Homo sapiens: one gene and its partner. The protein of the gene in region 1 interacts with the protein of each later gene in a pairwise test. Each region holds a gene or a part of one and is shown on either strand. Other genes may lie near its edges. The genes, in order: MARCO and SCGB3A1.

Region 1 (16,284 bases):
TGCAAAGAGAATGGCTGGTGAGATGGGCTCCCACTATCCTTTTGGGGACAGGCTACCAGAGGCAAAGGGGCAGGAAGCATTTGGGAGAGAAGGGAATGGGATCCCCAGATTTCCTCTGGGGGATGTGCTAGCTCATTTCTTGGGTGGTCTTGAAGAAATGTGACAGGACTCAAGAGAAGAGGACTGTAGGGTGGGCAGTAACTGTCAGGGGCTGGGGTGGGGCTGTGGAAAGAGGATGGGGGGTGGGGGGGAACTGCCTCAGTGCCTCAGGCTATGCATCATTTGTCCCTAGCAGAGCAAGTACAAGTTACCAGTGGCTCCTTGCTTCCCTGGAGCACCCTGGGGTCCTTGGAGGCCTGTGAGGAAGGAAAAAAGAGCTCAGTTGCTGTGGCCTGAGAATGTCTAAAATGTCTTTAATCAGCTGACATTCTAGATTCCCTTAGTTGAGCAAGGTTCCCAGAAGGAGATCTTTCTCTCTCTCTCACTCTCACTCTCTCTCTCTCTCTCTTTTTCACACACATGCACACACACAATCACACACATATGATTGCACAAACACAACCAGCAGAGTCCCTGGCAGTTCCAGGCAGTGTTTGCTCTTGCTATGGCATGAAAGTGTCCCTCAAAAGTTCATGCATTGGAAGCCTGGTCCTTAATGCAGCAGGTCCTAGTGGGGAGGTGTTTGGGTCACAAAGACAGATCTCTTATGAAGAGATTAATCCCATCTGGCAAGATGGAGTGAGTTCCTGCTCTTGTGAGACTAGATTAGTTACCAAGAGAGCTAGTTCCATTTCTCCACCACATTTTGACTCAACACAAGGCCCTCACCAGAAGCTGCCAGAGATAGCTGCCCAATCTTGAACTTCCCAGCCTGCAGAATCATGAGCTAAGTAAACCTCTATTCTGTGTAAATTACCCAGTCTCAGGTATTCTGTAGTAGTGACACAAAACAGGCTAAGACAGCTCTCTTCCCAAAGGTCCAGAACAGCACCTAGGAATATGTCCTGCATGGCAGTGCAGGAAAGGCTTTAGAGTCAGGCAAGTGTGTTTGAATTGTAGCTCTGTCACTCCCCAGGCTGATAACTTTGGAAAAGTCACTTAAGTATTCTGCATCTGAATTTTCTCATCTGTAAAATGGGGCTGCTAATGACTACCTGTCCTCAGCAGATGCATAATTAGTGTTCTAAGACAAAATTGGAATTGAGAAACGGTGATTCCCACCCACATGGCCCAGGTATCCAAGGCTAGCATATGGAGTACAGACTGGAGGTGCTGGGTGTTCCTGGGGCAGGGGCAGGGGCAGGGAGGGATCTGTTGAGGAGAGAAATGGTGAGACTATGAGGGGAAATTGAGGGATCCAGGAGGCAAAGTGGAAAAGGATGGGAAGGAGAGGAGTGAGAGGAGGTGGGTGTATATAGAGAGGCTCTAAGTGAGTTGCTGAATTACACAAGCTTTTCCTGAGGATGCCAGTGGGGCCCAAGCAGAAAGTGCAGATGGGCTCTGGACTCCACACTCTCTATGGAACCACAACAGCCTACTTTGTGGATCTGTTTCATGTATGTGGGTTCCAGATGATTTGGGCTGAAAAAGGGGTTGCCTGGTTTTAGTGCTAGTGGTTGCACAGTCCTGCTCTGAGCCCTCTGTCAAGGCTGTGTGATGTGCCTACCTGTCAGAGTCCTAAAGAGAAGGGGAGGCTCCAGCTCTATTCCTTCTTGAAGGAAATGACTGTGCTCCTCAGGCTTCTGGCTTTTCCCTTCAAGCCAGCCTCAGTGGCTCCACTCTGGTGAGTTTCAGTCACCTAGCCTGAGTCCCTCTCTCTCGGAGGAAAGAGGATGGAGGGAGACCCACTCCCCTCTGAGTGAGCCTGCTCTGCTCAAGCCCCCACAGGCTGAGTGTGAGTGTGTGTGCATGGGGGGTGCGAATGTCTGCAAATGTGTGTGAGCATATGCATATGTGCACAAGTGTGATTGTACTTGTGCAAGTGTAAGAATGCAAATATGTACATAGATGTGTGCTCAGACACGGGTGTGCATGAGTATATGCGTGTATGTGAGTGCATATATGTGCATGAGTATATGTGTGTATGTGAGTGCATGTGTGTGCATGAGTGTGATTACATTGGTGCGTGAGTGAGTGTGAGAATGCAAGTATGTGCACAGATGTGCCCTCAGACATGAGTGTGAGTGTGTGTGGTGTGAATGCATGTGCACACCTCTGACTGCACCATAAACCTTCCTTCTTCTGGTCTGCCTATCCTCCCCGCTTAAACCCTCCTCAGAAAACCCCCTGCTGGACACAGATCAATAGGCTCTTTGGGGTCCCTTCTATTAAATTCCTTCCCAAAATCAATTTCTGGAGGATTCTACCTCCTAACAAGTTTCCTTTCTTGTAACTGGTGGTGTTTTCTTTCTGCCTCAGCAGCCTGGCGGCTTAGAGACCTGCTTTGTTTACTCCCCACTCCCTTGTAAATCCTCTCATCTGCCCTTTGTCTAGTAAAGGTCTTAATGTCTTCGCATCTTCACATCCCAGCAGCCTCAACCCCTTGCGGAATTTGCAAGTTGGAGTTTCTAAATTAAGGGTGGATGGGAGCAGAGTGGAATGGAAAACTGATGTTTGGGTTTGTCCCTGGGGAGGGACAGCTCTGGGCCCCCCATTCTCTGACCGGGCCCCGTGAACCCATTTATATTAATAAGATGGCTGGGCAGAATTAGGCAACAGTCTAAAAAAATGGAAACTAATACTTTCCAAGCAACGATCATGAGCTTTGTGTCATTGTCTCTAATCCCCCTGGCAGCCCTCTGCAGCCCTCTCATCCCCAATCACAGAAAAAGAAACTGAGGCTCGGTTTCTTTGGGAACATCAGGAAACATTCCCAAGGGCACAGAGCTAGTCCAAGGTGGAGGTGCATGTGCCTGACACCAGAGTCCTTGTTGGACCAAGGAGGCCAACTTTCCAAAGTGGCACTGGCAGACTTACATTCTCACACAGAGGAGGGGGTAGGAGTCACACCCCCCAGCCCCATCTAGGATGAAGGCCATCTAGCCATACCTGCCCCTGAGGGCGGCTGCCCAGCCCTACTCTGGCCACCAGAAAGGGTGCTTCCCAGCCTCTCATCCCCTCTGGGGTCTCCCACCAGGCCTCCGTTCACCTACAGACCCCTCAGAGGTCCAGACTCTGGAGGGAGGCTGCGTCTGCAGCCCACAGCAGTCACTCTGAGAAACTTGCTGTGTATTTCTGGGTACATACCCAGCACCTACTCACCCGCCTCTCCCTTGACTCCCGGTGGGCCTTGGGGTCCCGAGGGGCCTGGAAGGGAAAGGGAATTCAGAGTGAAGCCAGAGAAGGAGGAGGAAAATGATTAAGGGTCAGAAGAAAAAGACCCGTACCTGTTGCTCCATCTCGTCCCATAGCCCCCTTGGCTCCCTTCTCAGCAGGTGGTCCCGGCGGGCCAGGGGCACCAGGCATGCCCATGGCCCCCTTGTGACCTTGAAGACCTGAGGAAGAGGAACAGAGACACTAATGAGTCAGTCAACAGGATGGGGCAACAACGCCATGCAATCACTTACATGGTGATTCATTCAACAAACGTTCACTGAGCATGGGGATGAGCCAACTGTGTGGAAAGAAGGAAAGAAGACAGAGCTCCTCCTGCAAGAAACCCATGGCCTAGAAAGCAAAAGAGAGACACTGAGTCACAGTCCTAGGAGCAGGTGTTAGCACTGCCCCTTTAGCTGGGTGACCTTGTGCAAGTTACATCATCATTTTGAGCCTCAGCTCCCTCATCAGTAAGATGGAATTAGTGTACTAATTACACAGGGATGTCCTGAGATTACCACGTGGGGACCATCATGGAAAACACACAAGGCAAGCTCACAGGAAGGCTCACAAGGGCAGGGCCTTGTCTGTCTTCTTCATGTCTGGATCCCCAGTGCCTATGCGACTTCTCATCCTCATGGAACTTTCAATAGGTATTTGTTGGGAGGAAGGAAAGAAGTCCAGGATGGATAGGGGAGAGAAACAGAGAGGCAAGTGGGTTTCGCAATCCCCTTCCCTGAAGCTTGGCTGAGGAGCAGTTCCCCTGACTGTGTTCCAGGCAGCCTGCGTGGGAAGGCAGTTCCACCGGCAGGCTGCCTCCAGTGAGACCATGACTTCTGGGTTCCACACCCAGCCCTCCTCCCCCACCCACCTATTTGTCTCTGGAGCCTTTTCAACAAAGGAACCTCTGGGAAGTCTTGACCAGGCAAGGCAAGCCATGGGGAAGGGGAGAGAACACAGCCTCCCTGGGTGGGAAAGGGTGATGGGCGGGGAATCTGGAGAGGCAGGTGGTGTCCGAGGAGGAGCCGAGACTTCTATAGCCCCAGCTGCTGGAAGAAGTTTCCTGTCTCTGGTTTCTGGGCACAAAAAGAAAGAGTGGGAAGAGACAGAGAGAGAGAGAGAGAGACAGAAGTCAGAGACAGAGAGAGACTGAGAAAGACATGGAGAGTGAGAGTTGGAGATTTTCTCTATGTACATACATCTATATTCAGAGAGAGAGAGAGGGAGACATGGAGAGAGATAGTTGGAGTTTTTCTCTATGTACATACATCTATATTCAGAGAGACAGAGAGAGAGACATGGAGAGAGAGAGTTGGAGTTTTTCTCTGTGTACATACATCTATATTCAGAGAGACAGAGAGAGAGACATGGAGAGAGTCGGAGTTTTTCTCTATGTACATACATCTATATTCAGAGAGACAGAGAGAGAGACATGGAGAGAGAGAGTTGGAGTTTTTCTCTATGTACATACATCTATATTCAGAGAGACAGAGAGAGAGACATGGAGAGAGAGAGTTGGAGTTTTCCTCTATGTACGCACATCTATATTCATACAGAGAGAGAGAGAGCCATAGAAGCCATGTTCTGTGCTCTGGGGTGAGGTGGGCAGCACTGTGCCTAGGGCGGGTGACAGGCAGATTTTGAAGGTTGTACTGAACCCATTGGGTTGAGAAGAAGTTTAAGCATTGATTCTGTCAGCAAAAGCAATTGAAATTGTTGAAACTGCCCCTCCTTAAAGGAGAGGAGCCAGCATTCATCAGGCTGGAGGCTCTCCTAGCAGCAGCATTTAGTTTTCTCAAGAATAACAGAATAACAACCATATATAACAATAGCAAATAATAGTCATAATAATAACGAAGACAAGAACATCATTGAGTACTTGCTCTTTGCTGGACACTGGACTAAGAGGTGTACATTTATTGTTTTATCCTGACACCAATCCTAGGAAGTCCTACCATATCTCCATCTTACGGGGGAGGACATAGAGCTCAGAAATGTTAGGTGACTTACTCAAGGCCACCCAGTTTACAGGGGCAGATCCAGGATTTTCTGTAGGCCCACCAGTCTCCCAAGTCCCTGCTTCCATCACTTTGCAAGGCTGCCTCAAAACCCTCCCTGGCCAATGGTGTGATCTGGGCCATCCTTGAAATATTATGGGACCAAAGGATTCTGTCCCAAAAATGGCATGTATATTTATCCTCAGGGGGAAATTTCAACCACTCAGCAGATGAAATGGAACAGGGCTGTGAGTGAAGCGTGTGTGTAACACAACACATGTGGGTTGAGGCAGGAAGAAAAGGCAAACAACCATAGCCTTGTCCTCAGAGAGCACATGCCATTGTCAGACAGCTTTTGCACTCCCTTGAGTCCTACAGCAACTCTGTGAGGCGAGTCGATTATCTCCACTGCTTCCTACACAGGTGAGTGGCTGGGGCTCCAGAAAACTTAAGTAACTGACCCAGAGTCACACCGCCAGTAAGCCCCAGGCCCAGGATTAGAACTCAGATCGGCCTGACCGCACAGCCTGCGCCTCCATGACACCTGCCTCCCATCATTACTGCCCTGTAGGAGAGAGGAGTGAGACACCATGGAAATGAGCACAGCACCTCTGGTGGGAAGTGCTATGTATGTGGTAGGTAAGAGTCACCTGGAAGGAATGCTTACAGGAAACCAGGAGAGAGGCTGCCCTGGCAGCCAGATGATGCCTGGTCTGGCCTGGGAAGGTAGCTAGATTTGGATGGGGGAGTGGAGAGAGGAAGCCTCTTTAAGTAAGGAGGGGGATGACAGCCCAGGGTCTGGGAGTCCAGTTAAGTTCTGGGAACAGAGAGGAGACCCAACTGAAGACAAAGGAGGCTGTGGAGACAGGGGAAGGTAAGCTAGGGTCAGCTGTCCAGACCCAGAATGGCACAGGCCAAGGGGCCCTTTTGGGGAGGTTTTGGGGAAAGAGCAGGGTGGGTGTGAGTGGAAATGAACCTACCTGGGGCGCCTTGTTCACCTTTGATTCTGAACATCCCTGCAAGGGAAGGAGAGTGAGCTGCAGCTGAGCTGTGGGGTACCCTTGGCCCAAGCCCCAACTGAGAGTGCCCAGGTTCTGCAGTGGGAGGGTAAGCCCTCCTGTGTGGGGCTCCCATCAGACTGTGGGGGTTTGGACAACAGGAGCCAAGCACCTGGCTGTTTTTTGGGAAAGAGTCCTTGGAAAGAGCCAGATGCTCAGCTGCAACTAGCGGACTGCACCCCGAGACCTGTAGATCCCTGGGAGTCTTGGAGGTGGGGAAAGGAGGTTGCTTCAAACCAGCCTGAGGAGGTAGAACCCCTTCGTATTGGTCAAAATGAGCTCCTTCACATTTCAAGGAAGGAAGAGACACTCCCATGGTGTCTGTGTCTGAACGTGGACTCCTTCCATCTGCCCACAGCTATCGCCCCTCCTCACACCCCCACTCAGCCTTCGTCTTTTCTCCCTGGGGAGGCCACAGCCTCTGGAGGGATTGGCCTCCTGGGTCCCGTGCTGGGCGTACCCCTTGGTCACAGGACCTAGCCATGGGATCACCCTCCTAAGCCTCAGCTCACACAGGGCCCAGAGCAAGGAACCCTGCTGGGGCTGGAGCTCTGTGTCACGGGGTAAACCCTACAACAGTTGAGCCACACCTAGCAGCTGGTTTTGCTGAAACTGTCTGAGGGCGAGGCTCTTCCCATTTTGGGGCAGGCTGAGAGAGGAGAGGGTGCAGCTGCAAGGCCCTGAGAGCACCGAGGGAAGGGGCACCCTTGGGGTTTTAACCCTTGGCTCAATTTTCCCCAGCCTGCAGCCCTACCACCCAAGTCACCACCTTTCCCCCAGCAGGTCCGGGTGTCCTCCTCCCCACAAAGTCCCCACATTGTCTGAACTAGTTTGGTGCCTTCAGTTGCTCTCTCCCCAACCTCATGTCAGTGTAAGTCAGCTGTGGGGGAGTGGTCCAGGGAACCGCCCCAGGCTCTGTGTTTTACCCTCCCTCCCAGACATTCTGGATCCATGTGGGGACTCTGGGTTCAGACTTGGCATTGAGCTGGTTGCTCTAAGTCCCTGGCTCTTGGAGGTCACACTTTGCTTGGACAGGGTCCTTAATTTCCTGGTTCCTGATCCCGCTGTCTCCCAGACCTCTGTTGAGAAGTCCTGACCCAGAGGGGAGGAGGCCAAACCTGGGTTCTGAGTGAAGTTGTCTACCCGCTGCAGCAAGTGCTCATGGCTGACGCGGACCCAGGTGAGTTGGGCCTGCAGGACTTGCAGCCTCGATGCACCCTGAGCCAGGTGTTCTCCAGGGTGTGCTGACTGCAGCAAGGAGAAGGACGGGCTGTCCTCAGCCGCCAGAGTGTCATTGAGGAAATACATCTCCAGGACCCGGAGCCGCGCCTGCAGATTCAGAACTGGGCCCCACCCCACAGCATTCTTTTAGGGACTGAGGCATTTGAGCATATCCCTGACATTCTTGTGTCATGTGTGCATAACTTCTACAGGCCCTGAATTTGTAAACACAAATTCCATGTGCTGTCAGGACCTAGCGTGAGCACACGGCCTTTTCTACATCTTGACCATGTGCGCTCCACACTCAGGCATGATATTGCACGTCCACAAAACATTTCTGCGTGGCCTAAAGCTGTGCCTACTGCATCCACAATCAATCTCCAACCTTCAGGCAGTTAAGACCTTCCTGCATGCTCTGGGTGTAGATGCATGACAGCTAACATGCTGGTCTGACCTAAATATGTGCAAGCAGCATTCGTGTGTGATCTTAATACACACAAGACGTGTTTATGACAACTGCTCATTCAGCGTTCTTGAGTGACTTCAGTGTCTGCTCATGGAACGACTTCATGACTTTAACCTTTAGATTGGGAATACTTCAAAAGTAAAATCATGTTCAAATGGACACTTGGATCAGCAAAGCCCTTCCCACTCAGAGGCTGGGAGTCTTAGATGTCAGAAGTGTGTGTCATCCCCCGTGTGAAATTATGATGTCTTTCACTGCTTAGACACATAGGCTCACAAGAGCATTCTCAATGTCTCTCTCTCTCCCTCCCTCAGGCACACATACACACAACATACACTCCTTCTTTGCTCCTCTCATCACTGTGGCTGCCAGGGGCTGAGACTGTCTCCCAGCAGATGGGAGCAGTGGCCCGAGGCTCTCCACTCAACCTGAGCCCTTCATCTGAGGGGCCCAGCTGGGTCACCCCTCTCCCCCCAGGAGGGACTACACAGGACCAAGCCTGCTTTACCTTGGACCACCAGCAGCCCAGCGCCAGCGGTGAGCAGGATCAGGTAGATGACCACCACAGCTAGGGAGAAGTTCACCCCATTTCTCCTCTTGGGCTTTGGAACTGAAACACAAGCCAGGAGGAAGGAGGCTGCTGCAGAGAACACAGCACAGGAAGTCCCTGCCTGCTCCAGGCCCTACTCCATGTGAGCAGGGGGCACCCTGTGAGGTCAGCTGGGAAAGACACCAAAAGCTCATGACTCCCAAATCATCCCCCAATCCTCTTTCTTGCCACAAAGCAAAAATTGCCACTGTTGGTCACTCATCTGTGTGGCTGGGCAAATAAACATCTGTGCCATATATCATTTGCTGGAAAAGGTGTCATATCAACCTTGTTCACTGGTGAAGCCCCAGCATGGTGCCTGGCCCTGTTGGGTTCTCAATCTCTGTTTGTGGAATAAATTATGAATTAATGTGTTTAAATTTCAAAACTCTGGGAGGAGGAGGGTTGTTCCCATTTGGCAAACAAGTAGTGAGACTTGGAGAAATTAAATAACTTATTAGGTTATAAGAAGCAGATCTGGAATTCATGTCTAGGTCTTTTTTTTCCTTAAGATTTGTAAATTATAAAAGTAAAACATGCTTGATATATTTTATCAAATAATGTACAGGGCATGACAAGGGTTAATAATCATCCCTCAACCCCCTAAGGTCCTAACCCGATGAGATAATCTCTATTAGCACTCTGGGGTGTGGTCTTCCTCCCATCCCTCCTGTCCAGAAATCCTACAAACCCATATAGTCTGAGAAAGCCTTTTTTTCTTTTAATCTTACAAATGATATCATAGTACATAAAATACCACACATTGCTTTTCACAGTGAAAGATTTTCGTGGACATTTTCCTAGTTTTCTTTGTAGAGAGAGATTAGCTGCCTAATACTCCTTAGAGACAAAAGCCACAGTTCATGCTAACATTTCCCTTTTAATGAGCTGTTTCCAGTTTGCGACATTACAAAAGAGGCTGTAATATTTCTTGCCTGGAAGTCCTGACTCTAGTCTTTCGTCAGCTGTTACTCTGTCTTGTTTAGGGGTATTAAAGGGAGGGCCCCAGACTGCAGAAGGCCCTGCAGTTCCTACTGCTCACATTAAATGAGCACCTATTCCACACCAGGCATTTACCAACATCATCTCTAACCATTGCAGCAACCCTGCAAGGTAGGCATGGTTACACTCCTTTACAGAGGAGAGAGCTGGGGTTAAAAAGTTAAGGTGGCAGGTGACACAGCAGGCATATGACCCCAGGTTGGTCTAGCTTCAAGGCCTGAGCTTGCCTCACTAGCCTGCACTGACCACTGCCCCTAGGAAAGATCCAGTTGAAATGGGCCCCAAGGGCACATCTGAAAGGGAAACAGACAATAATGAAGGAGCCCAAGGGAATGTGTGCCCAACCATGTTTGCTTTTGTGATAGGGGCAGGTGGGTTTTAACTATTGTGACAGATGCACTTAAACCTCAGATCTTTTCCTATCACCTGCAGCTCCTGTGTTTACCCTGCTGATATTCCTTCCAACCCCCGCACAGCAGGGACCCCTGCTTGAGAAATGCCCAGATGAACAATGGTCTAGGGGTAGCTCTGGCAGCACAGAGAGGAGTGGTTTTGTTGGTGGGTTGGTTGTTTAGCTAGTGGTACTCGATTATACTCAGTTTAGCATGGAGTGCCCCGTCTCCTCTGCACCCTACCCCCCAGAATCCAGGCTCACACAGCAGCCTGAGTGAGCCCCACAACACATAACCTGCCCAAGTCATTCCCTGCTCTCAGCCCTTCAGTGGGGGCTCACTGCTCCCAACCTGGCACCTGAAGCCCGTCTGGCCAGCTCTCCTATGGCTGCAGTTCCATGTCACACCTCCACATGGATCCTGACCAATGGCCAGGCCAGATGACAACTGGTGGCATTCTTCTGACTTGGGGCAATGTGTGTCCCCTGAATACTGGCTCTCCTCCTTCCCTTTCACAAGACTAATTTCTGCTCATCCTTCGGAAGTTCAGTAGAGCCCGTCCTGCTTCAGGACACCTTCTCTGGTTCCTCTGGGCTGGGTGGAACCCCCCTTGGCTCTCCCACATCACTCTGTTTCTCTCTGCCATAGCACTGATCACCCTGGATTGTGTTTTTGTCTCTGTCTCCCCAAATGGCCTGGAAGCTCTTTGAGCTGTATTCCAGCACCAACGTGGTATCTGGCACACAACATGCTGGGAAGATGATGACTGAATAGATGAATGAATGAGTGGCTACAGAGGTTTGGGTGCTGAACATGTGCAGAGTTAGAAGTGTTGAAAGAACATCAGGAATGCAACTCAGGGCCTCAGGTATTCATGCAACCGTCATGATGAAGACAAATAACACACGAGGGGAGCCTCACATTTAACACGAGGTGGTGGATGGCAAATTGGCAAATACAGTGTCATGGACAGCACTGTTTTTGGACAGCACTAAATTTTATGAAACAAACATCATGGGAATGGAAAGGTAAATTGTGCTTCAGAGACACAGGTATTACAGAAGTCAGAGGCTGGAGCAAGCATGGAAAATACAGATATTTTGAAACCATATGGTCAGAGCGTGGTGGAAGGCATGTGAGTAAGGATACAATGAGAAAAAATAAGGTATGGTAATACTGTGACAGTAGTTCATGGATAGCCATCCAGGCCCAGAATGCTTTTTAAATTCAGAGCTACCACCTGGCATAGAGGCAAAGTATTTTAGAAACTGGGAATGTTGAGCCTGTAGACCTATATAACTCATTCTGTACAAAATGGAGGGTCTGATGAAGTCTTTAGCCTCTACACTGTTCATTTCATCTCTTAGAGGGTAGAAGAAACTATAAAGAAAACACCTATTCTGGATCAGGTTTGACCAAAGAGGAAGAGCTGCTTGACATGAGAGGATAAAAACAGCTGCTAGTAAATAAAAATGGGCTTCCCTGGAGTAAACCTTGATGAGTATGGGCAAAGATTTTAGGCAAGCAGGTTTCAGAAATTTGACAGCTCTATTGTCTGGCCCACAATGAAAACATAGCTCAGGAGGGAAATAAAAATAATTTTTCAAGTCTGTAAAAGATCCCAGTGAAGAAAAAAAGCCTGCACACAAATTCTAGTCTTTCCAGGTCTGCCACCTCCTGGGGTAGCAGGCAGTGCTGGTAGGGTGTCCTCCTCCAGGTCTGCCACCTCCTGGGGTAGCAGGCAGTGCTGGTAGGGTGTCCTCCTCCCGTGCTATAACACTAGTGGACATTGAGCAGGTGTCCTCACTCTACCCTAGCACTGGGCTGCCTGGTGAGCAGACCCAGAGAAGTAATGTCTTCCCTTTGGGCCTGATGTATCTCACTTCCTACCTGATAGCACCAGGCAGTACTGGAACGTGCCTTCTGCCTTGCAGGAAGGACCAGCAGGGGACCAGCAAGAACTAATGGCACCAGGTAAACAAAGTGGATCAAAATAACGTGGACAGGGCTCTGAAAACTAAATTGTCATTGTACCATAGCCCACACAAGTAGGCCAGAACCTACATAATAAACCTAAACTGTGTGACTCTGTGACTGTCTACTAAAATAGAAGTTTTAAATAGGACTCAGAATCTCCTAACATACTATACAAAACATCCATTATATAATGGAAAATCACCCATCATACAAAGAATAGAGAAAATCACAACTCAGATGAGAGGAGACAATCAAGAGATACCAGCATTGAGATGACACAGATGTTAAAACTATTCCACAAGAATTTTAAAGCAGCTGTAACAAAATGCCTTAGTGAGCAATTAAAACTATTCTTGAAACAAATTTTTTAAAAGCTCACCAAAATAGTACAACATATAAAAAAAGAACCAAATGGAAACTATAGAACTAAAAAAATACCAATGAAAGAAAAAAGACTTGGTAGATGAGCTGAATAGTGTAATAGATGTGACAGAGGAAAGAATCAGTTAACTCGATGATAGAACAATAGAAATTACACGTCTGAAAAACAGAAAATCAGCTGGGAAAACAAACAAACACACATGAACAGAGCCTCAGAGACCTGTGGGCCAGTAACAAAACACCTACAATTCATATCATTTAATTCCTAGAAAAAGTGTGAGGCTTAAAAAATATTCAAAGAAATAATGGCTAAAAATTTCCCTAATTTCGTGGAAGATCTAAACCTACAGATTAAAGAAACTGCCAAAATCGCAAACATGATAAACTCAAAGAAATCCATATCAAGACACATCATAACTAAAACATTGAAAACATAAAAAGGCAGAGAAAATTAAACATCTAAGGAAAAAGGAAAAATCTAGAAAGCAGCCAGAGACAAATGGCACATTACTTATAAAGGAATACTTTTTTTTTTTTTTTTGAGATGGTATCTCACTCTGTCGCCCAGGCTGGAGTGTACTGGCATGATCTCTGCTCGCTTCAACCTCCATCTCCTGGGTTCAGGTGATTCTTGTGCCTCAGCCTCCCAAGTAGTTGTGATTACAGGTGCACGCCACCATGCCCGGCTAATTTTTATATTTTTAGTAGAGACAGGGTTTCACTATGATGTCCAGGCTGGTCTTGAATTCCTGACCTCAAGAGATCCGCCCACCTCAGCCTCCCAAAATGCTGGGATTACAGGCATGAGCCACTGTGCCTGGCCAGGAATACCAATTTGAATGACAGAAAGTTTCTCATCAGAAACTATGGAGAACAGATGTAAGTGGTACAGCTTATTTTGTGTTCTGAAAAAGAAGAATTGTCAACCAGGAATTATATTGCCAATAAAAATACACTGTGGGAATGGACAAGAAATAAAGACACTCTCAGAGGAAGAGAAATGAAGAGAATCTTTTACTGGCAGAACTAACTTTAAAGAATGACTAGAGGAGGTTCCCCTAACAGAAAGGAAATGATATAGTAAACTAGAATTTCAAAAAAGAAAGAGAATAATAGAACAAGTAAAAATAGGGATATATACTACAGCATCCTTCTCCTCATGAGTTTTAAAAATCACATTTGATTTTTAACACAAAAATTATACCACCTGATGTGGTGTTCAGTGAATGTAATAGAAAATGACAATTATATTTAAAAAGTGGAGAAGGCTAAAGAACATAAATGAAAGTAAGATTTCTACACTTGACTCAAAATGGTAAAATGTTGATATGTTCTGTATGTATATTGCAATAGCCAGGCTGCGATAAGTTCCATATGTATATTGCAATAAGTAGAGAAACCATTAAGAAAACTATTCAATAAAAAACACTATAAATAAATCAAAATGGAATTCTAAAAATTATTCAAATAATCCACAGGAAGGCAAGAAAAGAGAAATACATGAATGGGAAACAAAGAAAAAACAGAAAACACACAATAAGATGGCCAATTTAAGCACTGACATATCAATAATTACTTTCGGTATAAATGGTCTAAATCAGAGGACGGATATTGCCAAACTGTATTAAAAAACATAATCCAACAATGTGCTATAAATAAGAAATCAAACAATAGAACTTCAAAATACATGAAGCAAAAACTGATTTAACTGAAAAAAGAAATAGACAATACACAATTATAGTTGAGACTTTAACACGTAGTTTCAGCAATTGATAGAAACTCTGCAAAGTTACAGAAGAACTAAACACTAGCACTACTGACTGATAGTATCTAATGAACACACAGAATACTCCAGGTAGCAACAGCAGAATGTACATCCTTTTCAAGGACACATGGAACATACACCAAAATAGATGATATCCTAGGTCATAAAACAAATTTCAACCAAATGAAAAAAAACCAAGGTCATACAGAATACCTTATTTGCCAATAATACAATAAAAATAAAAATCAACAATGGATAGGCAACAGGAAAATCTCCAAACATTTGGAACATTTAAAAAAGGACTTCTATATAATGCATGGGTCATTAAGAAAGCATCAAAAAAATTTTAAAAATACAAATGAAAGGAAATGAAAATACAATATATTAAAATTTATGGGATAAAAAAAAGCAGCTCTGAAAAGAAAATTTATAGCACGAACTGCTTACACCAAAAATAAAAAAGGCCTCCAATCAACACACTAAGTTTTTTCCTCAAGAAATTAGAAAAGAACAAAATAACTCCTAATCACCAGAAAAGGAAATAATAAAGATAAGAATATAAATAAATAAAATTTAAAATAGGAAGATAGAGAAAAATCAATGAAACAAAAGCTAGCTCTTTGAACAAAGTCAATAAAATTGGCAAATCTCTAGCAAGACTGAACAAAAATAAAAATGAAAGAAGACACGGATAGCCAATATCAGAAATGAAACAGGTGCTATCACTACAGATCCTGCAGCCATTAAAAAGAAAATAAGAAAATACTATCACTAACTTTATGCTCACAATTTAAAGGAAATAGGCTAGTTCCTGAAAAGCCACAAACTACCAAAACTCAGCCAAGGTGAAATAGATAATCTGAATATCTATAATCATTAAATAAATCTAAATTTTAATTTAAAAGCTCCCAGAAAAGAAATATTCAGGCCCAGATAGTTTTACCAGCATATCGTAATAAACATTTAAAGAAGAGTTAGCATCAGTTTTACACAATCTCTTACAGAAAAGGAAGAAACACTTTCTAATTCATTTTATGAGATCAGAATGATCCTAATATGAAAATCAAAGATAGTCCAGTAAAAAGAAAGAAAGAAACAAACAAAACTATTTCATGAACTTTGACACAAAAATCTTCAGTAAAAGGCAAGCAGAGAACAAAATTGTGAATGAACTTCCATTCACAATTGCTACAGAGAATAAAATACCTAGGAATACAGTTAATAGAGGACGTGAAGGACCTCTTCAAGGAGAACTACAAACTGCTGCTCAAGGAAATCAGAGAGGACGTGAACAAATGGAAAAACATTTCATACTCATAAATAGGAAGAATCAACATCATGAAAATGACCATACTGCCCAAAGTAATTTATAGATTCAACACATTTCCCATTAAACTACCACTGACATTCTTCACAGAATTAGAAGAAACTATCTCAAAATTATACAGAACCAAAAAAGAGCTTGTATATCCAAGAAAATCCTAAGCAAAAAGAACAGAGCTGGAGGCATCACACTACCAGACTTCAAACTATTCTACAAGTCTACAGTAACCAAAACAGCATAGTACTGGTACAAAAACAGACACATAGACTAATGGAACAGAATAGACAACTCAGCAATAAGACCGCACGTCTACGAGCATCTGATCTTCAACAAACCTGACAAAAACAAGCAATGGGGAAAGGATCTCCTATTCAATAAATGGTTCTGGGAAAACTGGCTAGCCATATGCAGAAAACTGAAACTGGATCCCTTTCTTACATCTTATACAAAAATTAACTCAAGATGGATTAAAGACTTAAATGTAAAACCCAAAACTATAAAAACCCTGGAAGAAAATCTAGGCAATACCATTCAGGACATAGGCATGGGCAAAGATTTCATGAGGAAATTGCCAAAAGCAACTGCAACAAAAGCAAAAATTGACAAATGGGATCTAATTAAACTAAAGAGCTTTTGCACAGCAAAAGACACTATCATCAGAGTGAACAGGCAACCTACAGAGTGAGAGAAAATTTTTTGCGATCTATCCATCTGACAAAGGTCTAATATTCAGAATCTGCAAGGAACTTGAACAAATTTACAAGAAAAAAAAACAACCTCATTAAAAAGTGAATAAG
Region 2 (15,003 bases), on another chromosome or scaffold:
CACCTGAGGCAGAGTTATTCATCCCAGCAAGGAAGTCAACTGGGAGGCTTCCCCTGAAAGGGACACCGATGTCTGGGTTCCCTGGGCACCTTCCCACCAACACTAGATCAGTTGACAAAAGGTGGTCTCTCCGCTAGAGTAGAAGGAATCAAAGTCACTAGGTTATTTGGACAAAACCAGCAGAAACTGCAGGGAAAACAAGCCCAACAGCGGATTTCCTGAAGCCCTCATTCCTCCCCCATTCCGAGGAAGAAATCTACAAGTATAGAGGGAAAAAATAAAAACTTTCAAATTTTAGCAACAAATGGCTTTGGTGCGTTTGCATTCTCGCCAGTCTTCAAGGAGTAGATAATTTTTATGCTTCATAAACAGTTACAGAGCACAACAGGAAGAAAGACCTGCCAGTTTTGTTTCCAAATCCGGTTTACCTCTGATACTGGCCCCATCTCTGTCACCTTGCACTGCTGGCTCTATGCCACCTGCAGACTCTCGCGGCCTCTCTCTCCCTCTCTCACGCAGCACCCCTCACAAAATCTGGGACTTGGCACTCTCGGTCCCCCACAGGGATCAGCATTTGGATGAGAAAATACCAGGCTCGAGCTGCTCTTAACCACGTTTATTGAGAGGGGCCGGGGGAAGGGGATGGACGGTCCTCCCCGCGGCGGGGTTTTCAGCCCTCGCGGGTGGGCAGCGTCTTGTCCTCAGGTGTAGATGCTCCAGTCTCGGCTCAGCCAAACACTGTCAGGGCCCCCTGGAAAGCAGAAGCCGAGCTTGAGTGCCCCCAGCCCTGCCACCAAGAACTCAGGCGGGGGCGCGGCAGCGGCCGGCTCTGTGGGGAGCGGGAGCGGGGCGGTTCCGCTGGCGTCTCCGGGGGACGCGCACCCGCGCGGGGCCATCTCCGCCTTCCCCGCCCCTGCAGCTCGGATGCGCCCCACCCAGTTCCCACCCGGAGACCCGGGCTTCTCCCAGGGACAGGGCTTGGAGGGGCAGGACGGGAAACAGCCCTGACGTAGGGCCGGGACACCTCTGGTGCAGTTTTGAGGCTGGCCGGGAAGGGATGCCCGCGCAGGAAGGGCACCCGGGGTGCCCACTTTACCAGCAGGGCCTTCAGGGCCTTCACGGCCCCCACGGCCTGGGGACCCAGCTCAGCCACACACTTCTGGGAGCCCTCTATGAGGTGGTTCACGGGGATGCCCAGGCTGCTCAGCAGGAGCTTCAGCGGGTTGAGGGTGCCGAGGGGGTTGGCCAGGGTCCCGGCCCCGGCCTCCGCCGCCGACTCCAGCGCAGCGACAGGCTGGGCCACAGGCTTGGCCGAGCCCACTAAGAAAGCAGCAGCTGCAAGCGAACAGGGAGGGGTCACCGCCTGCGCGCCGGGGTCCCCAGAAGGCAGGTCCAGGACGCGCCCCCGCGGGAGGCGCCCAGGAACCGTCGCGCCCTGCCCGGCTCCCCGACCGCCCCTCCCTCCTGCGCCGAGGCCTGCCAGGTGCGAGCCCCCGGGACACAGGCGGGTCTGGGGAGGCGGCCCCGCCAGGAGACGCTGCAGGGTCACCGGAGTGGCCTGAGGGTGGCGGAAGGACCGGTGAACTCTGTGCAGGGTCCGGGACAGGCCCCCAAGGGAGGGGACACTCGCGCTGCGCCTTGCAGGATGAGGAGCCGGTCTCCAGACGGGGGGCAGACGGGTGTCCCCAGGCCAGGGGCGGCCTCCATCCCGGCACGAGGCTGGAGACAGCCCTGAGAGGGGGAGGCCGCGGGCTGCAGGCGCGGGGCCCCGGGGTGGCGGAGCCCTCTGGGCGCCGGGCGAGGCTGGAAGGACCTGGGATCCACGATCGGCGCAGGCAGCGGCGGGGGCGCAGCGGGCGCCGAGGCCTCAGGCCCCACCGTGCGCGCCAGGAGCCCGGGGCGCTCACCGGAGCTGCAGGACAGGGCCACGCAGAGCCCCAGGAGGGCGGCGAGCTTCATGGCGCGGGGGCTCGGGGCGCGCGGGGAACCTGCGGCTGCCCGGGCAAGGCCACGAGGCTTCTTATACCCGGTCCTCGCCCCTCCAGCGCCGGCCTCGCCCGCGCTCCTGAGAAAGCCCTGCCCGCTCCGCTCACGGCCGTGCCCTGGCCAACTTCCTGCTGCGGCCGGCGGGCCCTGGGAAGCCCGTGCCCCCTTCCCTGCCCGGGCCTCGAGGACTTCCTCTTGGCAGGCGCTGGGGCCCTCTGAGAGCAGGCAGGCCCGGCCTTTGTCTCCGCGAGGCCCACCCCGGCCCGCACCTTCGCTTTGCGGTCTGACCCCACGCGCCCCCCTGCAGGGCTGGGCCCGGGTGAGGGGAGCTTCCCTCGCGCCAGGGCAGGGGCGGGGGCGGCGCAGTTCCTGGCTCCCTGGTCCCTGCCTCTGATCCCAGACCGTGGCAACGTCGGGCACTGGGGGTCCTCGTGGGCGCCTTCTGCGCCTGGGGAGGTGGAGGCGCCAGGGACGATCAGGCCTCACTCCCGGCCGCCTCCCCGGCCGGGCCACAGGCAGCCACAGTGCAAACAGAAGTGGGGCGTTTTTCTGTCTTCGAAACTAGCCTCGACGCCAGTGGATGGGCCTGGTTTGTTCCTGAGTTTCTCTAAATGTCCTCACTCGTCTGTCACCTGCAGAAGTATGACAGATGGAGAGCAAAGCACATTTTGAAAACTTTTGCAAATGATACATAAACTAATTTGCTTTTAGTCCTTCTTCTTTCCTCTATTTTTTGACCCCAGGCATTGAGCACTGAGTGACTCACGTTTTGCTGCGTGGCTGCTCTCAGCTAGGTTGGTGCAAAGTCTCTCTTTTCTTTTGTAAAGTGTAGCTGGCACGCGTGGGAAACAGGCTCCCGGGTGGGAGGACCTGACTCTTCAGGCAGTGTCCTGGAATTCCTTCCCTATGGCTGACAGCACGTCTTAGCCCTCAGCCACCCCGAGCTACTGCGGCCTCCTCCGCACCTGCAGACACTTGTGCCTTTGCCAACTGTTGTGGCCAGGCACACGCATTCACACTGTTTCTGTTCACTTACACTTTTCCTTGACTATTTTGTTTGGGGGATTTTTGCATTATAAATCTGGAGTTTGGTTGTGTTTTGTTGGTCATCATGGAAGTAATTTTAATGGGAAATACGTTTTCTTTTTTAAAAACAGTTTGAAGTTAATTACTTTTTTGGTGGTGGTAAAGACACTGTCTTGCCGTGTTGCCCAGGCTGGTCTCGAACTCCTGAGCTCAAGCAATCCTCCCACCTCAGACTCCCAAGTAGCTGGGACTAGAGGTGTGAGCCACCACACTCAGCGGATTTTGATTTTGTTTTTTGTTTGTTTGTTTTTTGAGACAGTCTCACTCTGTCGCCCAGGCTGGAGTGTAGTGAGGTGATCTTGGTTCACTGCAGCCTCCACCTCCCAGGCTCAAGCAATTCTCCCACCTCAGCCTCCCAAGCAGGTGGGGCTATAGGTGTGCACCACTATGTCCAGCTAATTTTGTTTATTTTTTGTAGAGACAAAGTCTCACTGTGTTGCCCAGACTGGTCTTGAACTCTTAGCCTCAAGTGATACTCTTGCCTCAGCCTCCCAAAGTGCTGGGATTACAGGTGTGAGCCACCACGCCTGGCTTGATTTATTTTTATTTTTTCTAGAGATGGGGTCTCGCTACATTGACCAAGCTGGTCTCAAAATCCTGGCCTGAAGCAATCCTCCCGCCTCAGACTCCCAAGGTGCTGTGATGACACGTGTGAGCCACCCCGCACAGCCCAGCTTCACCATCTTAAGGGCACACTCCATTAGCATTAAGTATATTCTAATGTTGTGCAAACATCACCACAATCCATTTCCAGAACTCTTTTCCTCTTATAAAACTGAAACTCTGAGCCTATTAAACAACTCCCCACTCCCCTCCCCAAGCCCTTGGCACCACCATTCCACTTTCTGTCTCTGAATCTGGCCACTCCCGGCACCTCATATGAGTGGAATCGGGCAGTGTTTGTCTTTTGTGTCTGGCGTATTTCACTTAGCATGATATCCTCCAGGTTCATTCATGACCTTCAGAGTTTCCTTCCTTCTTAGGGTAGGATACTGCTCCATTGCATGGCTGTGCCACGTTTTCTTCACCCATTCACTTCACCCGTGGGTGGACATGTGGGCGCTTGCATGTTTTCACTGCTGTGAGTAATGCGGCCGTGAACACGGCTGTGCAAATGCCTCTTTGGGACCCTGCTGTTGGCTGTTTTGGGTGGCTGCTCAGAGGTAGAATGGCTGGAGCCTGTGGAACTTGCCTGTGTCATTTGTGAGGATCTGCCATCTCTCCCATAGCAGCGGCACCACGCTGCCTTCCCAGCAACAATGCACAAGGATCCCAGTGTGTCCACAACCTCATGATGCTTGTTCTTCTCCTGAGCAGGATCTGGCAGCCTTGGCCCAAGCAATCCCAGTGGGCGCATCTTGGGAGCTGACTTTGGGGCCACCTTTCCCCATGCTGCCTGGGGACCAGAGAACACTGACCGCGGGAAAGACCGATGCTGCCGAGGCCAGGAGGAGGGGGAGGCCGTCATCTGTGGGTCCCCAGCAGCGCTTGGGGTCCTGGCCACTCCAGCGGCCCCTTGCACCTGCCTCCAGGGATCCTTTGTCTTCAAAATAACCTCCCTCCACCTTCCGGCTCATAGTGCCTTGGGTGGATCTGTTCCCATTTCCCACAAGCCTGCAGGGTGGTGACAGGCCCTCATTCCCATGTGCCCCAAGATTTCGGATTCCAAAAATACATCCCCTGGCTCCCCGGAGAAGTGTGTCACGGTGTCTCCGTTTCACCACTGACAGGGCCAAAGGATGTGCTCTCCTCTCCCGAGCTGCCATGGTCAAGGCAAGCCAGGACTCACCTCAGGCTGGCCCAGCCCCTCACCCCACACTGGCTCTGGGGGCCACGGCTGGCGAAGCCTCTGCGGTAGTTGGGGATCAGGCAGGCCGAGGGTCTGGCCTGTGCCGAGACCTGCACAGCTGGGTCAGCGGCTGCCTCTGTATTCATTTCCTGAGGCTGCTGTGACAAGTCACCACATACCTGGTGGCTGAAAACAACACATTTACTCCGCTCGCAGTTCTGGAGCCCAGAAGTGCAGTGTCACGGGGGTGAAGGCGAGGCGTCGGGGGCCGCTCCTCCTCCAGAGGCTGGGCCTTCCCAGGAGCTTATCCACTCCTGGCCTCTCCCTGCTTATGGGGGCTGCCAGGGCCCCTTGGCTGGTGACTGCATCACTCCAGTCTCTGCCTCCTGGTCACATGGCCTCCTCCTCTTCTGTGTGTGTGGGTGTGTGTGTGAGGGTGCGTGGGGTGTGTGTGTGAGGGTTTGTCGGTGTGTGGGTGTGTGTGGGTGTGTGGGTGTGTGTGGGGGTGTGTGTGGGTGTGTGAGGGTTCGTGTGTGGGTGTGTGGGAGTGAGAGGGTATGGGTGTGTGTGAGGGTGTGTGAGGGTATGTGTGGGTGTGTGAGTGTGTGTGGGGTGTGTGTGAGGGTGTGTATGTGTGGGTGTGTATGTGGGTGTGTGTGAGGGTTCATGTGTGGGTGTGTGTGGGTGTGGGGATGTGTGGGGGTGTGTGTGTGGAGGGGTGAGAGTGAATATGCATGCAAGTGTGTAAGATGGACAGTGAATGAGAATGTGCATGTGAAGGAGAGTGAGTGGGTGTGAGCTTGTGGGTGTGTTTGAGTGTGAATGTGTGTACAAGTGTGTGTGTGGATAAGCGTGAGTCAGTCTGTGTGGGAGGGAGAGTGTGGGAGGGAGTGTGTGGGAGGGAGTGTGTGGATATGCATGTGTTTGAATTGTGTGCAAGTGTGTGTGAATGTGTGTGTGAGTGTGGGTGTGTGTGAGTGTGAAAATTCTGCCGCCATCTTATGAGTGTGTGTGTTGTTGCATTTAGGGCTCACCTAGATAACCCAGGACAGTCCCCTCATCTCACAATGACGCCCCCAGTCGGGCTGCCGAGACCGTGCCTGCTGAGCCTAACATTCCAAGGTTCCAGGAGCTGGGGTGTGGACGGACCTGGGGCCTGCCATGCCCTCCAAGTGCTGCCCTGCCCCTTGAAGGCCAGGCCAGGTGAGGCTTCCAGGGTGGGTGTCAGAGTCCGCCCGGCATGGGACAGGGGCGGGTGGGCAGCGCCCTCTCGTCAGCCTGGGCCTTCCCTGCCACTCCTGCTTGCGGCCCTTGCTGGCTCAGGTCTGCCGAGACACTGAGAAAGTGCTTGGCGCTGTCTGCAGACGACACGGTCAGCTTGTTCTGGGCAGTGTTTGCAGGGCATCTTTTGGGCCAAAATAAACACGCACACCTTGCCCACTCCCACGGAATGCAGGAAGAGCTGGAAGGTAAACAAGCACTTTGCGGCTCTGGGGAAGGGGCCAGATATTGAATTTGGGGCCTATTGAAAGACCTCAGGGCCTCGGAGCAGGGTACTCAGCCCCTGGGTGCTCCTGCTGGGGAGCCTAGAGGCTCACGGTGCCTCCGCCCGGCCCACGCTTTGGCGGTGCTTCCGCAGACACCTGTGGAGGGCTGTTCAGGTGGCAGATGCCCACTCTGATGCCCCCACCATGTCCCCATTCTCTCTCTGATGTCCTCTCTCTCTGAGGCCCCTGCTCTCTGTGATGCCCCCTCTCTTTGATATCCCTCTTTCTCTGGTGCCCTCTCTTCCTAATGCCTTGAGTACATAAATTATTAAGCAAACTGGGTTGAACTCCGGATACCCATGCCTCTCTGATGTGGTCACCTGGGCAGGTGAGTGCAGCTCCCCGCCAGAGCAGGCATCTTGGTGACTGTTCATTGCCGGAGTTTTCTGGGGCCCCTCTCTGCCCACCTCTGCTCTCCTGGGATAGCAGCTGGCTGTCAGGTGGTGTCCTGGTGGCTGGGCCCTGGTTAGGTTAGCCCTCCATGCTAGAATGATCTGGGGCTTTGGGAGGGGTCTGTGGTGCTGTTCCAATAGAAGCTGCTCTTCTTTTTATGTCTAGAGCCAAAGGCCGCAGGCGCTGGACCCCGGCCCCGAGGCCCCCTTCCTCACTCCTTCTGAGCAAACTTTCCTACTCGAAGGTGGGGACCGGTGGGCAGCCCTGGTGGTGTCAGCCGGCACCCTGAGTTTCCCGATGGTCCTGGGACCCTTTTTCAAGGGACTTGTGGGGGCTCCTGGCCAGGGCCACCACAGCGGCCAGCAGCAGCGACCCTCCACACCGCCCTGAGTGGGCCCCACAAGGACAGGCACCTCGGCCAGTCCCAGCAGGCACTCTGGGCTTTCTCCTGCGCCAGTAGGAAGTGGTTTGGCTCGGCCCCGTGGGCCCTGGGGCGCTCAGCACCCCCTCCTCAGCCCCCGTCCTCCCTCCTCATGGCTCGGCCCCGTGGGCCCTGGGGCGCTCAGCACCCCCTCCTCAGCCCGCGTCCTCTTTCCTCATAGCTCAGCCCCGTGGGCCCTCGGGCACTGGGCAGTGTCGTGAGCATATCCGAGCGCCCTCTGTGGCACCGTCCCTGGGTCAATATTGATCTGGCTCTCAGCCACTTCCTTTTGCCCCTTCCCTGTCGGCACTCCCACCCACAGGGCCCTGCTGTGCGGAGGGGAGCAGGTGCTGTCGATGTGGTTCCTGCCTTGTGGGTTCAGGGCATTGGTGAAAGTGACAGAAAAGCTGACCCACGTGGCTTTAAGCAAAGACTGAAATTCCAGGAGTGGCTCCGCCTTCAGGGAAAGGTTGATCCAGGCTCAAAGGATGTCACCAGGACCTCATACCTCATTCTTCCCTGCCATCTCTCAGCTCCTTTTTTTTTTTTTGAGATGGAGTCTTGCTCTGTTGCCCAAGGTGGAGTGCAGTGGTGCAATCTCGGCTCACTGCAACCTCTGACCCCAAGTTCAAGCGATTCTCCTGCCTCAGCCTTCTGAGTAGCTGGGATTACAGGCGCCCGACACCATGCCCGCCTAATTTTTGTATTTTCAGTACAGCCAGGGTTTCATCGTGTTAGCCAGGATGGTCTCGATCTCCTGACCTCGTGATCTGCCTGCCTCGGCCTCCCAAAGTGCTGGGATTACAGGCGTGAGCCACCGCGCCCGGCCTCTCAGCTCCCATTTTTTAGAGTTGTCCTCCTTGGAGTGACAGGCTGGCAGCCAGCAGTGCCAAACCTCCGATACCAATTTGGGCCCAGGCACACAAGCGCTGGTGCTATCCCCAGGGCCCTCCCGTGAGGCTTCACCCCACTGCTCCAAGGACCGTGCTGGCCACAGCAGCAGCAGCAGAGGAAACATCGTGTCTCATTAGGTCCCACTTCCCTGCTTCAGTCTGTTCAGTGAGGAAGGAGGCTGAGGAAGGGGTGCTGGCAGGGATTCAGGAGGTGACCCTGGGCAGGGCTCCACACCTCTGTGTGCCCAGCAGCACTCCCTGTCCTCCCCACCCCAATACCATTCCATTGAGGAAAGCACTTCAGTCCCCAGAGCCCCACCGTGTCCAGGGACTGAAGTGGTTTCCTGCGTGGAATGGCACTGGGGTGAGACGGGCATTATCACCCTCACGATTTAGAAGAAACACAGCTCAGAGAACGTCAGTGACCGGCCTGCAGTCCCCTGGCAGTCTGAGATGGGTCTGCACGGTGCCCAGGCCATGCTCTTCACACGCCCATTGACCCGGAAGGCACAGCGTCCTGTGCTGCCTCCACGTGCCAGGGCTGGGAGCAGCCAGGCAGGGGTGAGAGTTGGGGGGTCAGACCCAGGGGAGGCCCCAGCCCAGACTCCAGGCCAAGATCCCACCATGGCAGAGATGCACTTGCTGCCGTCCCAAAGCAAGGCCCCTTCCGAGCGTTCCCTTCCGTTACTGCTGCCTCTCCGTGGAGACTGGCTGATGACTTCCAGGTACCCGGCTGTCCCTAGGGGAGGCCATGTCCTTCTCAGGGGAGCTGCCTCCTTCCAGGGCCGGGCAGTCCTGTGTGGCCCTGCTGCCCACAAGCCAGCTGTGATGGAGCTCCTGGCAGTGCCTCAGAGCAGCCAGGGATGGGCGGGACCCTGGGAGCTGCCCGGCTGACTCCACCCCTGTGTGCCACAGAGGGGCAGCCCAGGCTGCCAAGGATGCTGCCCCCAGGCGTGTTCCAAATCCCTTAATCCTCTCTCTCTGTGGCCGCTCTGGGCTCCCCATCAAGCCCTAGTTCAGCCCCCACATCCTCTAGCCTCCCGGCCCACCATCAGCTTTATGGCACCCTTGGCCACTCGTGGCTCGGGTGGAAAGTTTAGGAGTTTCTGCTTCCCTCTTTGGATGCGCCCCTGAGGGGAAGGTGGTGTCCCCCACTGGGCCCAGGAAGGGGAAACGGTCCCCTCTCCTCGCGGTGGTGGCTGCAGCCAGTTACTCCTCCAGAGCAGAACAAGGGTGGGGGGAGTGTGGGGGCGCTTGCTGACCTCAGACACCGCCCAGTTTGCCCTCAGGAGGGATGCATTTCCCCTGTGCACAGCGCTTTGAGGCTGGGCTCACATTTCTTTCTTACAGTCCTGGAAGCTGGGAAGGCCAAGATCAAGGCGCAGGCAGATCGGGGGTCTGGTGAGGGGCTTCCTGGTTTCCTGACAGCTGACTTCTCACACGGTGGAAAGAGGGCTACGGAGCTCTCTGGCCTCCTCTTGTAAGGACACTAATCCCATTCCCAGGGGCTCCACCCTCATGACCTGCTCACCTCCCAAGGGCCCCACCTCCTAACGCCATCACACTGGGAGTAGGGTTTCAACATGTACATTTCAGGAGGACACAAACCTTCAGTCCATCGGGCATATGGGGGACGGGTGGGAGCACGTGTTAGCTGGTGCATGGGTGGGTGGGTGAGTCAAGGGGGGCTCATAGGCCCCTGTTCACACCACTTGGTCGGAAGGGGGCTTTTACCTGGGTGTGGTCACCCCCAGCACCACTGGGGCCTTATGACTTTTATCACCAAAGCTCTACAAGGTGGCAGTCATGAATGAGAAACTGAGGCTCCGAGGGGAGGTGCTGGGCTCAGGCTCACCAGCTGCAGGGTGCCACATCTCATACCCCATCCTCCGCTCCCAGCCCTGAGGAGCCCTCAGAGCCCAGCCTGTCCCAGGCTCTCTGCCCAGTGGCAGAGGAGACCCAGGCCTCATTTGGTGGTTGCCAAAGGCACAAAGGCAGTCCCCGCTCAGTGATGCTATGGTCCCCTCCCTGAATCCACATGCAGAGATCAGGGCTGGAGATGGCCCCAGTGACCTGGGGACTGGCCAGCACCTTGGACACTGTGGCTGATTATCTGGGCTAAGCACACAGCTTCAAGAGTCTACCTGGAAGCTAGGCACAGTGAGCCCCGTAGTCCCAGCTACTCAGGAGGCCGAGGCGAGAGGATCATGTGAGCACGGGAGGTTGAGGCTGCAGTGAGCTATGATTGCACCACTGCACTCCAGCCTGGGTGACAGAGTGAAACTTCGTCTCAAAAAAAAAAAAAAGTTGATTTGGGCCCACTGGGGTGGAGTGGCCTGGGAGTGGTAATGGGGTGAGGATGGGGTCAGGGGAAATGAGAGGGAGGGAGCCGGTGTTGGTGCTGGAAGCTGCTTTTTGGGTTCCCTCCTCCCAAGCATAATGAGCATCTAGGGCGGGAGCTGTGTAGGGCCCTCCCGGGGGTCCCTCTGATCTCCTAGCCTGCCAGCACCCCTGCAGACCCCGCCAAGCTCCTTCAAGATCCCTCCTTCTCGGTGAAAGACGTCAGCCCTTCTCAGAATGCCCGTCTAGCCTTAAAATAAGAAACAGGCCCAACTCTGGACTCCCAGGCCCTAGGTCCCCTGTGGCCTCCTGTCCCACATCCCACTTCCCTCCCTCGCCTGTCCTTCTGGTCTTCCTCTTTGCTCTTCTTCACTCCTCACAGCAGGGGCTGCGGTTTGTGAGTTCCAACTCCAGGGCCTAGGACCACGTGTGGCTTTGAGCAGCCACCCGGGAGCTCTGCCTGCTGGATGCAAACGCCAGGGCCTGAGCACACCGAGAGGCACTGGGGACGTCAGCATAGAATCAACAGCATCAAAGGACATTCGGGCATGTCCTGGGCCCCAAACCTCCCCCAAGCAGGTGACGAAGGGCTCTTGGCAGAAATGAATAGAGTGAAGGGCTGGGGTGGAGGTGGGGAGGCATAGGCGGGCGGTGGCACCCAGAGAAGGGCTGGAGCCTGAGAGGAGAAGGTGAGAAGGTTCTTGGGAGGCAGAAGGGACCAAGGGGCCCTCGCAGTGCGAGCACGCTGTAGCCTGGTGTGACTCCTCCCTCCCCGCTCGCTGGCTGTCTCCATCCACACAGCCACTCCTGGAGTGAGTGGTGCTCTGGGGTGTGAAAGGGTGGCTGGGACCTGCAGGGACACTTGAGCCCAGCCCTTAAGGTCCAACCCAGGAAGTTCCAGAGGAGCCCGGAAGTGTGAGCGCAGCCCTGCTGGGAAATGGTACGGGATGGGAGCACAGAGGTGTTTCAGTTCCCAACACACAGGGGCATACTTTGGGCTTGGAGAGCCGCTCAGCCCTGGGCACGGGGGGACACCCTGTTGGTGGACACCTGGGTTGGCACATATGTCAAGGTCAGTGACTAAATTCAGTCAATTATAATGGAAAGCTAAAATATCCAAACCCAGCCTGGGCAATACAGTGAGACCTCATTTCTACAAACCAACCAACCAACCAAAACAAAAAAAAAGCGGCCGGGCGCGGTGGCTCACACCTGTAATTCCAGCACTTTTGGGAGGCTGAGGCCGGGAGTTCGAGCCCAGCCTGGCCAACATGGTGAAACCCCGTCTCTACTAAAAATACAAAAATTAGCTGGGCGTGGTGGCAGGTGCCTGTAATCCCAGCTACTCAGGAGGCTGAGGCAGAAGAATTGCTTGAAGACGGAGGTTCCAGTGAGCCGAGATCGCGCCACTGAACTCCAGCCTGGGGGAAAGAGCAAAACTGTCTCAAAAAAAAAAAAAAAAAAAAAAAAAAGCCCAATGTGGGGGCTGTTCTGTATTCCCATTTAGATTTATTACGGAAGCAAAAACAATAAAAGCAACACTCCCGTCCGCAACACACACAAAGACCGGCATCAGATTTATTATTATCTCTTGTTAAATATTTTCGATCTTTTCTCAGAACATGGTCTAGAAGGGCATAGTAGTTTTTTTCCCGGTACATGCGTGGGTGGGTAGTGAGGAGAAGGGAGCAGAGGTGCGCGCCAGGAGCCAGGCTGGTTCTCTGCAGAGAACAACCTCCAGATCCTCCCAGGGAAGCCTGACACGCCAGTCCCACGTTGGACGACGTGCAGAGGAAGGGGGAGGTCCACGGGGACGACGAAGATGACCTTATACGTGCACTCGGCATATCCTGGAGTAACGCGCAGTGGGGGAGGTGGGGAGGGGAGGGTCGGCCGGGCAAGCCCCTGCCCGCTGCGCGGCGCCTGTCCTGCAAGCGTCTGGTGCGTGGGTTTGGGGGGTCAGGGTGGTGGTCAGTCTCCGTGGTCCTAACGTGGGGATGTGGCTCTTTCTCCTGGTGAGATGGTTGGGCACTGTGAGCTGGGATAGGGGTCCTGAGCAGAATGCCTCCAGCCTTCAGGGGATCTCTCGGCTGCTCCTCTGGGAGGGCGGCATTCTGACCAGCCAGGGTGCTGATGTCAGGCACAGGGCAGGAAAAGGCTGAAGGCAGGTCCCCAGAATGTCCACTGAGTGCTGGGTGGCACAGGGCAATGCTGGGTGGTCCTTTGTGCCAGCCCCGAGCCTTCCTGAGTGGATCCCACAGTGTTCATCTCTCATGAGCTGGTTCACGGCTTGGGAGGGGCCGCAGGTGGCAGATCCGGGCTCTAAAGGGAAGAACCAGACCGGCAGCTCCAGACCCAGGCTCCTCGGAGTCTGGGCCAGGTGGGAGAGCAAGGGCCTTCTCCAGAGGCACTGACTGCTCTGCTGGCCTTGACCTGGGGCGGGGGTCAGAGTCATCTAGACTCAGTACAGCTGTCCCTGGGCGCCTTCCAGGCTGAATTCGGAAAGCAAATTCTTCTCAGCAGCTCTAACAGTCTGTGAAGTTCTGTTGAAAAAGACTTGCAGGATGGCTCTCAACACCCAGGCGCAGGTGTGCGGGCTGCCTCTGTGTTGCCAGCGTATAATACTGTCATACTGGTGGCCACCCCAGGGGCTAGTTGGCTGTTTGGTCAGGCCCAGAAGAGGACCCTGCAAATGCCTTCTTTGAGATGGAAACACAGCCCCTCCCTTCAACTGTGCAGGGGTGGGTGAGGCCAGCCAGCCCTCGTGGGGAGAGTAGCTGTGTGCCTGAGGAGGAAAGGGCGTTTGGGAGACCTCTGCTCTCGTATGCCTTAACCTCCAACACTGTGTGACTCCCAGACCCACAGATTCCTCGTGGGAAAACAGGGACCAGGCCACCACCCAGTGTGATGAAAGGAGGTCGCCAAAGAGACATTCCCATGGAAGTGCTGGCCCCGGGACCAGCACCTGCGGATGCTGAACTAAATGACATCTGAATCTCAGGGGGAGGGGCCGGGGCAGCTGGAGCGTGGCCCTGGCCAGTCGTGGTGACGGAATTCCGGGAGCCTTGGGCCTGGAGTCCTGCTCTTCCTAGCTGGGAAGTCTGCAGAGAGGGAAGAGGACACTCCTGTGCCACCAGAGTTCAACCAGATGAGTTCCCAGCCTGGGCCTCCAGCCCTCTGCCCGCCCTGCCGGGCCTGAACCCCCAAGTGCTGGGGGTCTTGTCCGATGCTGCTTAGTAGCTGTTGTCTGTGAAGAAAGTCACGCGGGCAGACGGGGAGCAGTGGTCCTCCTCGCTTGGCTCCGACAGCTCCCCATACTCGCTGTTGTAAAACACCTGGCCTCCTCGGGCCCCCCGCTCAGGCCGCCGCCGCCTCCCTTGGGAGTCAGGGTGTGCCCTGGTCACAGCCACATTCTGGCCAGGTCCTTTACAGCTGCCAAGACAGGGAAGGTGGTGTTAGTAAGAGAAGAAGGCTGGGTGGCGGGTGGTGCATACTGGTAATCCCAGTACTTGGGAGGCCTAGGCAGGCGGATGGCTTCAGGCCAGGAGTTAGAGTCCAGCCCAGGCAACATGGGGAAACCCCGTCTCTACAAAAAATACAAAAATTAGCCAGGCATGGTGGTGCACGCCTGCGGTCCCAGCTAAGTGAAACAATTGCTTGAGGCCGGGTGCGGTGGCTCATGCCTGTAATCCCAGCACTTTGCTGGGAGACCGAGGCGGGCGGATCACGAGGTCAGGAGATCGAGACCATCCTGGCTAACACGGTGAAACCCCGTCTCTACTAAAAATACAAAACATTAGCCGGGCGTGGTGGCGGGCGCCTGTAGTCCCAGCTACTCGGGAGGCTGAGGCAGGAGAATGGCGTGAACCCGGGAGGCGGAGCTTGCAGTGAGCTGAGATCGCACCACTGCACTCCAGCCTGGGCGACAGAGTGAGACTCCATCTTAAAAAAAAAAAAAATTGCTTGAGCCCAGGAGGTGGAGGTTTCAGTGAGCCAAGATCGTGCCGCTGCACTCCAGCCTGGGTGACAAAGTGAGACCCTGTCTCAAAAACAAACTAACAAAAAACAAGGAGGGACTGGAGCCCTGTCAGGGTCTGATGGGAACCACCAAGGACACAGTGGAGCATGGCATGCGTTCAGACTTCAGAAAACACACACAGACTCGACTCAAACAGCAAAGCGGATCGATCTGATCCAGCACTCACTGGAGCTCTGTCCCTACCTAGCCTGGACCCGAGACTGTGAAGAATGTCCAACTTCATCCCCCAACCCAGTTCTCACTCTGTCTTGCCCATCTCAGTGAACGGCACCACCGTCCCCTCAGCCGCTCAAGCCAAGCACCCTGGGGTTCTCCTTGCTTCCTCCTTCCCCTCACTCTTCAAAGCCAATCCATCCAGAAGTCCTGTCCATTCTAACTCCAGGACACATCCGTGCATCTCCATTCCTGGCCCTCCTGCGGAGCCAGCTGTGTCCTTGCCGGCTCTGTGACATCCTCCCGCGGACTGCTGTGTGCTTCCACCCTGGCCTCCTGGTGGTCCACCCTTCAGA

What was found.
Region 2: the proteins of MARCO (region 1) and SCGB3A1 come close enough for resonance energy transfer, tested with the Homo sapiens proteins (one study listed by BioGRID).

The regions. Positions count from the first base shown.
Region 1 is NC_000002.12:118,961,543-118,977,826, reverse strand, and holds part of MARCO (macrophage receptor MARCO), read right to left. Parts: intron 8,668-16,284; coding exon 8,566-8,667; intron 7,714-8,565; coding exon 7,489-7,713; intron 6,329-7,488; coding exon 6,293-6,328; intron 3,495-6,292; coding exon 3,387-3,494; intron 3,307-3,386; coding exon 3,262-3,306; intron 357-3,261; coding exon 312-356; intron 1-311. UniProt on the Homo sapiens protein: Pattern recognition receptor (PRR) which binds Gram-positive and Gram-negative bacteria. Also plays a role in binding of unopsonized particles by alveolar macrophages. Binds to the secretoglobin SCGB3A2.
Region 2 is NC_000005.10:180,589,504-180,604,506, forward strand, and holds SCGB3A1 (secretoglobin family 3A member 1 precursor), read right to left. Parts: upstream 1,997-15,003; 5' UTR 1,960-1,996; coding exon 1,908-1,959; intron 1,336-1,907; coding exon 1,097-1,335; intron 752-1,096; coding exon 728-751; 3' UTR 602-727; downstream 1-601. Other genes in the region: FLT4 (vascular endothelial growth factor receptor 3), read right to left, coding at 13,689-13,887. UniProt on the Homo sapiens protein: Secreted cytokine-like protein. Inhibits cell growth in vitro.